2 linked regions of the Homo sapiens genome follow. The protein of the gene in region 1 interacts with the protein of each later gene in a pairwise test. Each region holds a gene or a part of one and is shown on either strand. Other genes may lie near its edges.

Region 1 (7,029 bases):
AATGTGTTTATGTGTATATATATGTATGTACATACATCTGCAATATATACATATTTGTATTACACATTTATTAATGCAGGGATTGACAAACTATGGCCCAGGACCAAATCTAGCCCTGGCCTGATTTTGTACAGACACAAGCTAAAAATGGTTTTTATATTATTAAAAGGCTGTAAAAGAAAAAGGGGAAAAAAGATGAATAAGAAACAGAAAGCATATGTGGACTGCAAAACCTAAAATATTTGGCATCCGGCCCCTTATAGAAAAAGGTTGCCAGCCCCTGTATTGTCTCCCACTAGAACATAAACTCCTTGAGCTCAGGGACTTTGTTTTGGTCACTGTAAGATCCCCAGCACATAGAAGAGTGCCTGGTTCAAAGTAGATGCTAAGTAAATATTTTTAAAAGAATGAATGAATAAAGACAATGAGTTTTATTGTTTGTTTGTTTGTTTGTTAGCCCAGATCTCACTCTGTTGCCCAGGCTGGAGTGCAATGGTATGATCATGGCTCACTGCAAGCTCGACCACTCGGGCTCAAACAATCCTCCCACCTCAGCCTCCCATGTAGCTGAGACCACAGGTGTATGCTCAGCTAATTTTTTTTAATATTTGTAGAGACTGAGGTCTCACTATGTTGTCCAGGCTCATCTCTAACTCCTAGGCTCAAGCAATCTTCCTGCCTCAGCTTCCCAAAGTGCTGGATTATAGGCATGAGCCACTTCTCTCAGCCCAACACTGAGTCTTAGTGAGGTCAGGTGACTTGTCTAAGGTCACACAGGAAGCTGGCAGATGAACCAGGTTTCAAACCCAGGTCCACCTGATTCCACAGCTAGGCCCTGATGTGCAAGAGCTGCTTGAAGCAATGATTTGAACCTTCTTGTTTTCTACCAAAAGGCTTTCCTTTGTAGACTGTCTCTAACAGGCAAATTAGGTAAGCACCCTGTGGGACAGGGGATGAAAAAAGAAAGACATACAGTATGTTGCAGAAAACTTTTAAAAATTATATCATAACATATTTACATCTGATATCAACCATATTCAATGTACTTTCATATACATCATCTCTTAGTGTCACCACATATCTGTCTGTATATGGTAATGAGCGTAATCTGTAATTATGCTCATTACACACATTACAAAACAGAGTTTCAGAGAGGTTAGGGGAACTGGCTTTCACAAGAAATGAGTAGCAGAGACAGAATTGAATCCAGATTTATCACTTTTAGTGCAGAGCTTTCCCCTTTACCAAATTGGACCAACATATATCCCCACAGCTCTGCTGAAGGGTAAAAGTGCTGCCATGGATGTGGAGGAATTTTAATAAAATGGCAGTCACAGTTCAGTCACTTCTAAGAAACCAGGGGCTACTCCATTTCACTTAGAGGTCTGTGGCATACAAGAAAACCTCCTCAGTTATAAACGGCAATCTACCAATGGCCAGAGGCAGCAGCAAAGTAAGAACTTTGAAACTGAAGCAATGAGCAAGAGAGCTGTCAAGCTGACCACATCTTGGGCTTTTACTGGTGTGACAATAGTGCAGCATTTTTGAGCTGCCAGGCCCATGACCATCTTCAAGAAGGAAGCCAAGAAAACTGACAGTTCTCTTAGCTGACACGAATATCCACAGCTGTCACCTCCTGGACCAGCTGCTGAATCTAATCAGCCATCCTCTGAGGCAGCTGACTTTAGAGCCTTAGTGTATTTGGCTGAGAAACCATGTGTGTTACGTGGCTGCCAAGGGCCAGCCTTCTGCGTGATTGCCAGTGTCTCTATGTTTTTATAGAGGAGAGGTCACGATGCTGCCCCCTGGAGTTCATTTGAATCTGACACGCAGCTGTACACTGGCCAAGATACCAGCTCAGAATGCTTGCAACAGTCTAGTTTCAAATGTCTGTCTCTTTGTTGCTGTAAGTTCCTTATGCTGTGTCAGGCCATGTGTGCCCTACCCCCCGCCCAGAAAATGTAGCCTCTATAAACAGCAGCAGTTGAAGCTACTGTACTATATTTGGTCCATTTCTGCATCTCTTCACCCTCCTCACTATAATATGGCCCAACTCTTAGGAAACTGAAATTAAATCAAAGTGTCATTTTCAATGGTAGAATATGCAAGAATTTTAAGTACTAAATGACTATGATTATTAAATCAGTTTAATAATTATAATGTTTTCTTCAAATAATTTATATGATGACTTGGATATGAAAACCTGATGAACTACATAATAACTACAAATGTACCATTCCTTTCGGTACAACTTTAAACTTATGTCTCTGTATTTTAAAAATCTCTTTTATTTGGAAATAACATTAGTAATTGCAATGAAGAACATGGAGCAAAGGTCAAATGCTTTACCTAATATATTCCTTTGTCAAAAAAAGAAAACTTGAAAATCGTTCAAAGTCGGGCATTAGGTATCTTCCATATATTAAGTATCATGCTTAGTGTGATGCTAAGTGTGACATTATATTCTTAGAAAGTGTCTGGCTACTTACATGCATATTCCAAGGAAACTTTATATATGGGGAAGACATATTTGAGAACTCCGCATTTGTACTGTGTTAAGCAATAAAAAGTATACCTTTTTGTTGTCAGGCTTGAGAAAGAGATCCAAGATCTTGAAAAAGCTGAACTGCAAATCTCAACGAAGGAAGAGGCCATTTTAAAGAAACTAAAGTCAATTGAGCGGACAACAGAAGACATTATAAGAGTGAGCATTAACCAATTTTAAAACTGTAATTCTCTCTCAAAATGAATCCACAAATACTATATAATTTTTCAAAGCATATCCACATTTAGATTCTATTTTTTAAACTGTATTAATCATGGAGAATTCTTTTTTCTTACAGTCTGTGAAAGTGGAAAGAGAAGAAAGAGCAGAAGGTATGTTTTTGAATAACTTATTTTATGTTAAACTAAGTTTTTTTGGTAATTTGAAATTGTTCCCATTGTAAATATATTCTAAATGTATTTTGAATTCATATTAATTTTACAGAGTCAATTGAGGACATCTATGCTAATATCCCTGACCTTCCAAAGTCCTACATACCTTCTAGGTTAAGGAAGGAGATAAATGAAGAAAAAGAAGATGATGAACAAAATAGGAAAGGTATATGAGAAATCTGTGTTGAAGGGCATGTTCTTAATTTCAGATTTTACAGTGTCAAATATTCACAACTTGCTATGACATATTATTCTTCCAGGTTAAGCAATGGTTCACTTTACAAAGTTCTGTGAGTTATGTGAGTCACCGCATAGGTGAGGATAATGAGGGTATAATAATAGCATTTATTCCATGCATTTTATTCCCTAACAAACCAGACAGGGATAAGGAAGATAGAGACCCAAAGGAGACAAGAAGCTCTTAAAAGCATAGATTCCCTGGTCAAAAATATTTCTCCTGACATATTCCATCCAATAGAACCTCTTTGGGGGTTACAAAGATCTTTTTTGAAAATGAAAATATTCCTTTGGGAAGCTTAGGCCTTATTTACCTCCATGGGAAATTGAGTTACATAAAACTGATGCTTCAAAGCTTCTAGAAAAATGAAGGTTTGCATTAGAGCAGAGAGGAAAACTTTGAATTTTACAGTGGAAGGAAAAGCTACTCTTTATTTGCAGATGGTAGTCATTTATTCATTCAACAAATATTTAGAGAATAGATACTGTGTGCCAGGTTCAGTTAGGCACATAGTAGGTATTCACTAAATATATCATGGTAGGGAGTGCAATACAGAGAATAAAGCAGAGAAGCTGGACAGGGAGAGTGCAGATGAGGGGTGTTGCAGTTTTTCTTGGGTAGTCAAGGAAGGCCAAGAACCACCAGGCTATAGAGGAGGTAAGAAATACAAAATGGGTTCAGAAAGAAAGGTGGGAGGACACAACAAAAGCAAGCTGTAATTTTGCACAGAATTCTATTCGCTTTACCTTTCCTATTGAAATTCCAGCCATAGGGATCTTACTTAGGTCATGAAGCAAATCTCAGCTTCCCCAGTTCTCTCCAGTCCATTTGTCTCAGTGCAGCTGATATTGCTGTACTTTTTAGCCCTTCCTCTACTTGAAAATGGGAGTGAAAATGAAAAGAAACATAAGGCAGAAAGAGAAGTGTGTGATTGTAGCCTTCTCCCTCCCGTTTCCATCCCAGTTCTACATTTAAACAGCCTCTCCACTGTGAAAACTTTAGAACACACCTCTATAATTTCACCAGGCTGCTGGCCTGTACAACAAGGATGTAACTTTATAAAATATACTGTACTAGGCACTTTGCCCACTGTGATGCACAGTCCAACATATTCTTCTTGACTAAAGAAGAGATTGATTCTGCCCATTGAGAAATGCAAAAGAAAGTATATCCATCTTGCTGAATTTATTAATAGGAAAGAGGATATCTTTTTCGGTTCCCCATTGAAATTCTTTCCTATTTGGAACCATCAGCTTATCTTCTCTAATCAACTTCTCTTCTTCAACCCTTTCCATTTTTCAGTACAATTCCCTACACCATTACATAAAAACCCGTGTTATTCCAGTTGGTCATGATATCATTAATGAGTAAAATCAGAAATTTAAAAAATAGACAACATCTCACATACAAGAACATGAAGGGTCTACTTAATATAAAAATAAACACAGTGAAAGCAGGTTAGTTTACAAAAGAAAAGTTAACTAAATCAAAGATCAAATTTGTTTCTTAACAGCTTTATATGCCATGGAAATTAAAGTTGAAAAAGACTTGAAGACTGGAGAAAGTACAGTTCTGTCTTCAATACCTCTGCCATCAGATGACTTTAAAGGTACAGGAATAAAAGTTTATGATGATGGGCAAAAGTCAGTGTATGCAGTAAGTTCTAATCACAGTGCAGCATACAATGGCACCGATGGCCTGGCACCAGTTGAAGTAGAGGAACTTCTAAGACAAGCCTCAGAGAGAAACTCTAAATCCCCAACAGAGTATCATGAGCCTGTATATGCCAATCCCTTTTACAGGCCTACAACCCCACAGAGAGAAACGGTGACCCCTGGACCAAACTTTCAAGAAAGGATAAAGATTAAAACTAATGGACTGGGTATTGGTGTAAATGAATCCATACACAATATGGGCAATGGTCTTTCAGAGGAAAGGGGAAACAACTTCAATCACATCAGTCCCATTCCGCCAGTGCCTCATCCCCGATCAGTGATTCAACAAGCAGAAGAGAAGCTTCACACCCCGCAAAAAAGGCTAATGACTCCTTGGGAAGAATCGAATGTCATGCAGGACAAAGATGCACCCTCTCCAAAGCCAAGGCTGAGCCCCAGAGAGACAATATTTGGGAAATCTGAACACCAGAATTCTTCACCCACTTGTCAGGAGGACGAGGAAGATGTCAGATATAATATCGTTCATTCCCTGCCTCCAGACATAAATGATACAGAACCGGTGACAATGATTTTCATGGGGTATCAGCAGGCAGAAGACAGTGAAGAAGATAAGAAGTTTCTGACAGGATATGATGGGATCATCCATGCTGAGCTGGTTGTGATTGATGATGAGGAGGAGGAGGATGAAGGAGAAGCAGAGAAACCGTCCTACCACCCCATAGCTCCCCATAGTCAGGTGTACCAGCCAGCCAAACCAACACCACTTCCTAGAAAAAGATCAGAAGCTAGTCCTCATGAAAACACAAATCATAAATCCCCCCACAAAAATTCCATATCTCTGAAAGAGCAAGAAGAAAGCTTAGGCAGCCCTGTCCACCATTCCCCATTTGATGCTCAGACAACTGGAGATGGGACTGAGGATCCATCCTTAACAGGTAATAAAAATGACAAGGCATGCCACTGCTGTTCAGTCATGTGACCAGCTTCTCTTGTGCTAATGCAGTCTTGCTTTCAGGCTTCTCTGACCACCTCATAAACTAATACGCACTGAGATTTTTTTATTAATGCTGATAGAGATTATTATCACCACAGTAAAGTGATTAAGTCACTTCAAAAGATAAAGAAAGTAAAAATAAATCATTGCCTTATTTGATATTGTATTGAGGAACTTTAATAACTTGAATTTCATCTTCTATCATGGTATGGTGCTGCTTGTGAGTGTATTTGGGTCACTAATATGTTGGATCATCAATAACATATCTTTTTCCACTAGAATCTGATGACTACTTTATTTGTGCCTCACTGTGATTTAAACTTCTTATATAAGTTAACAAATTGCCTTAATTCTGCAAGAAAGTACAAGAAACAAATTTTATTTTCAGAGTATTTTATTACCTTGCTGTATCTTGTTTCTCTATATGTCTATAGTTTCATTAATTTTATTTTCCTAATTTTTCTACATTTTAAAATAGAATGTTAGTTTATTTTATGTTTTCTATAACCTTTAACTTTGCATAGTGTTCCCCAACTTAGCATATTTATCTTTTCTATTTTCTATATATTTGCATTTCTCATTCTTTGCAAAATTTTTATAGCTTTATAGCTAACCAGCTATTTTAGCATTGAGTGGAAAATAACTTTAACACTTTTTTTCTACAAAAGTGATAGCTTCTCAATTTTAGATTTCTTGTTATCACTTAAATACTATATTCTAGTTATCATTTATAAAGAATAAATAAGAACCTAACAAAATCAGTTATAATAGCTGTACTTACCTTGGCTAAAGATGTAAATCAAATTACCCTGACATACAATTTCTGTATGTTTGCTAGGGATAGTAATTTTAAATGTCTCTAATGGAAGGATTCTCATTAAAAAGCAATAAATATTAAGTACTGGCTAACTTCACAAGTCAAACTTGATAATTCTATGGCAGTGTGGTAGTACCTGCACAATTACCTACACAATTCAATAATGTTTCTTCCTCTACAACCCATAAGCCCAATATTAGGTAGCTAATAATACAGTAAAATGAACCTTCTCCCATTATTTTAAGTAGTTAAAGTAGGTATCCCAATGATAAATTTAATTACCTGAAGAATTTCTAAGCTTTTGGAAAGTATACACGTATACAACTTCCTCAATCAGAGTTGAGTGATATGTCTCACAATGGAAAGT
Region 2 (7,029 bases), on another chromosome or scaffold:
CAGACCCCGCAGCCAGGGCTTGGAAACAGTGGCCCTCAGTGGTCAGGCAGGAAAACAGGCTCAGCAGTTCATCCTGGCTCTGCCATTAGTAGATTTCTAACTTCAGACAATCTAATTAATCACGCTTTGGTTTTCTCATCTGCAAAATGGGGAGTGATAGTGCCTCCTTTGTAGGATTATTGTGAAGAATATGTGACACAATACAGTAAGATACTTAGCATAGTGCCTGACGCATCTATAACACTCCATAAGACTGGCTTTATCATATTGCCGCCAACACCAACATCTTCAATCTCACTGAGAGTCAAGGTGTAGTATGGGGAAGAGGGAAGAGCTCATGGCCTTGGGGCCACTCCAACTTGGGTCTGATCCTGGCTCAGTCACTTACTGGCTTTTGACTTGGAGCAAGTGGCTTAACCTCAGTTCTCTCATCTATAAAGTGGGTGATAATAATCCCTCTACATTGCAGCTCTACCAGGAGTGTAACATTCCTACAAATGCCTGGCACATAGAAGTGTAATAAATGGTGCATTTTATTATCCATAATGTATTGATCCGAGATGAGATTTCCTGGCAGGACTGCATCTCACAGGAGTAAGAAAAGGAGGAGGCAGACAGAGTGTGTGTGTGTGTGTGTGTGTGTGTGTGTGTGTGTGTGTCCAGGAATAGGAGGAGCTTGCAATGAGATTTTCAAGAAGTATTTGAATAAAGCCCCTGCTTGTATAAGTTCAAATCATGGTAGACTCACTACCTCAGGAGGCCATCCCTTACATCTTTGAGCCATTCCGATGATTATAAGACATCGTTCTTTTTTTTTTTTTTTTTTTTTGAGAGAGAGTCTCGCTCTGTTGCCCAGGCTGGAGTGCAGTGGTGCAATCTCGGCTCACTGCAAGCTCCGCCTCCTGCCTCACGCCATTCTCCTGCCTCAGCCTCCCGAGTAGTTGGGACTACAGGTGCCCACCACCATGCCCAGCTAATTTTCTGTATTTTTAGTAAAGACCGGGTTTCACCATGTTAGCCAGGATGGTCTTGATCTCCTGACCTCATGATCTGCCCGCCTCGGCCTCCTAAAGTGCTGGGATTACAGTCATGAGCCACTGCGCCCAGCCAAGCCATTTTTCTTTATACTGAATCTGACTGGAAGTCAGAGCTTCAGATGCCCCAAAGCAATGGGAGTGACTGCTCAGGGCAGCATGGTCTTACATAGTGCCCCATAGAGCGCCTTTCCAAATCTGTATTCTAGACCTCAATGAAGCTCCCAGAAGGGGCATTGCAGGGTTTGGGGCTAACCTTTGTGGCCAGCCTCTTCTGATTCTTTTGTTAGCCCAGGGGATTGAGACGGGGCTGGCTACATTCCAATAGAACCTAATTTATAAAAGCAGGCAAGGAAGCTGATGAAGTAAGCTCCATTACTGATAAATTGAGTGATCTTGGGCAAGTCACCCACCACAGGGCTGCTGTGAGGAAGAAGAGAGAGGATGCATGGGCTGTGCCTCAAGGGAGCCTGGCTCAGAGCAAACAGCTGACACTGCCAGCTAGTCACAGAGAAAGGTGTCCCCGCCCCGTTGGGCTTCCAGAGCCATGCTTACAGCCATTGAGGGACATCTCATAGCCAGCTGTGTGCAGGGCTTCCCGGCTGCTGGTGGAGCTCCGGGGAGGGGTCCAGGGATCTGCATAGGAGCTCGACCGGGCCTTCATTTCTTCCTTCAGAATCAGCCGGCCAATTCCACTTTGGAGCTGAGGGTCGGGGAAGAGCAAGATAAAGTTAGAAGGAAAACAAAGGACACTGAGATGGAACGGGCTTGGGCAAGGCTGAGGATCACATCCTCCATAGCAGCCTGCTCTCATGTTTGCCTTCCCAGCGTCCCTCCCACCTTGTGGCACCCATGTTTCCTGTTGCAATCTCATCTTGTCTTCCACAAGTTGTCCTGTGGTCTGGGTGGGGGTCTGGTGGTGGGCACAAAAAAGCAAGCCTGGCCAGTGACAGGATCCCATTGTCTTGGCACAGTGATTGATTCAACAATGGGCAGATAGCCACCTTTTTCTTTTTAACTGAGGTGAAAATTACTTAACTTCAAATTAACCATTTTAAAGGAAATGATTCAGTGGCATTCAGTGCATTCACAATGTTGTGGAACTACCACCTCTATCTCGTTTCAAAATACCATTATTTCCCCCAAAGGAGATCCCATATCCATGAAGCACTCACTCCCCATTCCCCTCTCCCCGTGCCCCTGGGAACCAGCAATCTATGTTCTGTCTCTATGGATTTGCCTATTCTGCATATTTCATGGAAATGGAATCACACAATATGCGACCTTGTGTCTGGCTTCTTTTCTTAAGCATAATGTTTTCAAGGTTCATCCACATTGTGGCATGTATCATTACTTCATTTCTTTTCATGGCTGAATAATATTCCACTGTATGGACATACCATATTTTGTCCTATTCATGAGCTGATGGACATTTGGATTATTTCCATATTTTAGCTTTCGTGAATAGTGCTGCCACGGATATGAGTATATATGTATTTGTTTAAGTCCTGTTTTTAATTCTTCTGGGTATATATCTAGGAGTGGAATTGCTGGATCATGTGGTAATTTTATGTTTAATTTTTGAGGAACCACCAAATTGTTTTCCACAGGGGCTGAAACAAGGGTTTCACCAGCAATGAACAAGGGTTGCAAGCACCTGCTTACCATTATGTGAAAATAGCTTGCCTGAGCATGAAGCCAATGCAGAGGCAAGCCCCAGAAGTGAAGAGACAAATTTCCTATGACATTTTTTTGAGCAGTTGGATCTAGTCATACTTTAAGCTAATTCCACCATTTGATTTTTCAGTTATGCAAAGCTATGCTTTTCTTTTTTCTATCATAAGTGGGCTTGAATCTGTTTTTTGTTGCTTGTAAATGAAAAGACCCTCAGTGATATACGCTCTAAGCATCATATTCAGTGCTGTGGTCTCTGCCCACCTTGTGCATGCTGCGGTCAAAATCATCCTCCTCTCCTCCAGACGAGAACCTTCTGGCTCGGGGCACTGTCAAAAGACAGAAAAGATCAGCTCCGGCATGTGCACCCCACTCAGCCTGGCTTAAGGCATTTTTTTTTTAAAAAAGAAAAGCCACTTTTCTTTCTTTTTAATCTTATTTTTCAATGGAAACAGTCTCGTTTAAGCTAAGCCCCACATCAGCTGAAAGTGGTCTCTGCTGCCTTTGTGGTCTCTGAACACTCCTCTCCTGTGGGGATGGATCACTGCCCACTTGGTTATAGTCGTATTTGTGTCTTACCTTCTTTTCTAAATGAAGACTTCTTTGAGAGTAGCGAACGAGTCATCCTTTTATTAAATTTTTAAATTTTTGAGACAGGGGCTCACTCTCACCCAGGCTAGAGTGCAGTGGTGTGATCATGGCTTGTTGCAGCCTCAAGTCCCCAGGCTCAAGGGATCCTCCTGCCTCAGGCTTGCATGTAGCTGGGACTACAGGCATACACTATCATGCCCAGATAATTTTTAAAAATTTTTTTGTAGAGAAGAAGTGCTATGTTGTCCAGGCTGGTCTCAATTTCCTGGGCTCAAGTGATCTTCCCAACTTGGCCTCCCAAAGTGCTGGGATTACGGGCGTGAGCCACTGTGCCCAGCACCAAAGAGTCATCTCTGAGCTTCTGTGAAGCTTTGCTCAGAATGGACATTGAATTAGTAAAGACATTGAATCAGAGTGGATCTTGATGGGGGGAAAAATTTCCCCCCATACTTGAAAGGAACAGCTTGGGTTGTATGATTGGGTGAGGTGGTATCTGAGGACCACTGAGACCCCTTACCAGGAGCCTTCCACCTCCCCACATCCTCTCTTTCTCCATCCTCCCAACCATTTTTTACCCTACAGCCAAAGTGGTCTCTCAAAAGCACAAATGTGATCATGCCACTACTTTCAATGTGATCATGCCACTCACTGTTTAGGATAACAACCAAAATCCTTACCTCAACCCTCAAAACCCTGGGGGACCTCCTCCCTCACCTCTACTGCTTCTCTTCCTCTCTGAGTTCAAGGTTAAGTGGACAGCCTTTTCTTTCCTCCAGTGGAATCCTCTCTCACATCCTGGGTCTTTGCAGAAGTATTTCTACACTCTCTGCTGTGTTACATCCTTGCCACCCTCCTGATGGCAGCTGAGTGGCTGCATTGAGAAACTTTTGTCATCTTCAGGCTGGACAGCAGGCCCCTGCCATCAGCTCTCCTACCTTCTGCGCATCACCTCCCTCTCATGGCTGGGGCCTATGTCTTCTCCACAAGGGCAGGGACCTGGTCTGTTTTGCTCCCCAGTGTATTGCTAGGGTCCATGGCCAGTGTTTAGTACATATTTGTTGAATGAATAAACACCCTTAGTTATAAACCCTCTAAGCACTCTTATTCAGAATGATTGTATAAAGGAGTGGGCAACTGTTCTGAACACCCGTGTCCTTGGCACAGGTGTTAGGGCCCTGGACCCAGGCTCCTATGGGGGTACTACCTTTGGGGGACCCATGGTAGGTCCAGTACTCAGACTCCGAAGCATAGTAGGGGTCTGGCGAGTAGATGGGACTGTACTTGGAGGTCTGGCTGATGTCTTCACTTGTTTTGCTCTTGGTTGCTGTAGACAAATCACCTGCAGAGGACCCAAGGAGAGCACTTCAGGAAGGCAGAGTGACCGGGATGGGACTGTGTACCCTTTTCCTATCTTTACCAGGCTCCAGCCCAGGGGAGTGAGTCCACTTCAAGATCAGGGCTCTCTGTTAGAACTGGGCCATGGAGCATCGGAGCTGGAAAAGCACTGGGGCCAAACCCTCATTTTGCATTTAGTAATTGGAGCACCAGAGAGGGGAAGGGGCTTGCTTAAGACCACATAGCATGTGAGCACCAGAACTGGACCAGATCCCAGCCCAGGGCTCTTTCCAGCACATTCCATGGATTCCCAGGTCTGTTCCAGAATGACCTCTAAGGGTGTGGCTCCTCAAATAAGACTGGACAGGTCCCAGGTGAGCCCCAGCCCTTTAGAAGCCTTCCTAGCCCTTTAGAAGCCTTCCTTGTTATAAATTTGAACTCCATCATTTCTCACAACCTGAGATGCCACATTCTGCTCAGGGACTACATAGCCTGAAGGAAGGAGTGCTAGACAGGGAGTCAGCAAACCTGGGTTCTGGTCCCAGCTCTGCCACTTTACTCAGCTGTAACACTGGGCAGGTCCTACCATCTCTGCCTTAGTTTCCTCATCTGTAAGTGTCAGAATCGGTCTGCTGGCTCAGCTGCCATCCAGCTTCAAGCTTCCACCTGAAGTAAGCCCAGGACAGGGGTGACCAAAAAGACCCACTGCAGTCACAACTACTTACAGAGCAGTGACTTCTCGTGGCCCAAACGTGGGTGACAGGCTGGTAGAGCAGAGAGAGGGGCTGGGGAAGTGTGTGTGGCTGCATGACCATTTCTCATGGTCAGCTACAGGAAGCTTTAGGGACAAGCTCTGTGCTCTGTGGAGCCAGAGTGGCAGAGCGTGGTGGATCAGCTTCAGCCAGCCCTGGGCTATGCAGCCCCCACAACAGCACTTGCTTCCAAAGCTTTCAAATTCTTCTCTTTGACTTGGGTCCTGGGCAGCCCCTCCTGGCTGACTGCATTTAGCTTTTTCCTCCGCCCTCTTTTCCAAGCAACCCACCTCCACCCCAGACTCCTCTTGAGTCTGCTTTAGTGCCACCCCTCAGGGCCCACCTGGAAAATCCCACAAAGTCCTGAGAAGCTTGTGACCTGGGGGCCTTTTCTAGGTATAAAGCCAAACTACCTTTGTCATGTTGGTGTCTTTCTATGAGTACTCAGGGGACATGGCATGTCCTTCACAAGCTGGTACAGACTTGCACATGCTCACAGACTCACCTCGGACCCCCCTGCTCAGCCCCCTCTGGAACCAAGGATGTCTGTATAAAATGTAGAATCTTAGGCACCCAGAGCCGCTGTTTAAACTCGTATTGTCCCCTCCACCAGCTAATTAGTTCAGAACCTGGTGCAGGACTGCTTCGCTCATCTCCAAGCTCCACCGATTCTGGGCCTCCTTTTGTTATCCAGCTAGACCCTTAAGCAAGTGTGGGTGCACAGGGTGGCAGCTGCTCCTCTGCAGCTTCAATGGAAGGGATGTGCTCCTTCAATCGAGGCTTAGTAAGTACTTTTTGCAAAAGTGAACAGGTGGTGTCAGTGATGAATGACTTGGTGGTTCTCATACTAAGTGCAGGGAGGAATCATGGACAAAGCCAGTTATAGTGCAGATTCTTAGTTCACACTCTCAATATTTATAATTAAGGGAGTCTGGGGCAAGGAAGGGGCCAGGGAATCTGCCTTTTAAATGTCTCTCAGGTGCAGATGGTCCATAGATCATTCTTTAAGAAACACTAAATCAATGAATGAATGAAAGAAGGAAGTCACCCTCTGCAACCTTACTCATCTACATCTCCTCTGCAAGTCTCCATCCACTCTCAGGAGACTGTGACTGAGAACAACTTACAGCAGGGGTTCCCAAGTTGGGCTGAGTATCAGAATCACTTGGAGAAACCGTGACACATACAGAATTCGAATTCAGTAAGCCTGGGGTGGGGCCCAGGAATCTGTATGCATCCCCTGTTATTCTAATGAACATTTCAAGTATTAATGCCTTGGAGTGTGACTCTCCCAGGGGCATGTGCGTTTTACAAAGGTTTTACCAATTATGGAACTTAGGATGACAGAGAGCAGGTAAGGGGGAGATTGCAAAGGTGGTGGGAAAGAACTGAGGGGACATGAGGACTTTGTTCTTTTGAAATGATACCAAACTCTGCCCTAATGTCACCCTGGGTGATGGGGCAGTCAACAAGAAGGACCAAGATGCAGCCTTGTGTTTTGTGGCTCCTGGTGGCCTGTGCAGGGCCATCTGCATAGATGGTTAACCTCCCCCCTCTCCTTGTGTGGCCAAGCCCTATCTACCTCTGACCATACCATGCCGTTTGTAGATCGGGGGTTTCCGGTAGATGTTACTGTCTCCAGC

Evidence for each region. Proteins that work in one complex are often made in the same cells at the same time.
Region 2: the proteins of PALMD (region 1) and ABLIM3 interact in binary tests that used the Homo sapiens proteins (3 or more experiments, as listed by UniProt).

What each region holds. Positions count from the first base shown.
Region 1 is NC_000001.11:99,684,087-99,691,115, forward strand, and holds part of PALMD (palmdelphin), read left to right. Parts: intron 1-2,589; coding exon 2,590-2,704; intron 2,705-2,843; coding exon 2,844-2,877; intron 2,878-2,989; coding exon 2,990-3,103; intron 3,104-4,688; coding exon 4,689-5,786; intron 5,787-7,029.
Region 2 is NC_000005.10:149,242,490-149,249,518, reverse strand, and holds part of ABLIM3 (actin-binding LIM protein 3), read right to left. Parts: intron 7,029-7,029; coding exon 6,981-7,028; intron 4,639-6,980; coding exon 4,504-4,638; intron 3,038-4,503; coding exon 2,973-3,037; intron 1,738-2,972; coding exon 1,590-1,737; intron 1-1,589. UniProt on the Homo sapiens protein: May act as scaffold protein. May stimulate ABRA activity and ABRA-dependent SRF transcriptional activity.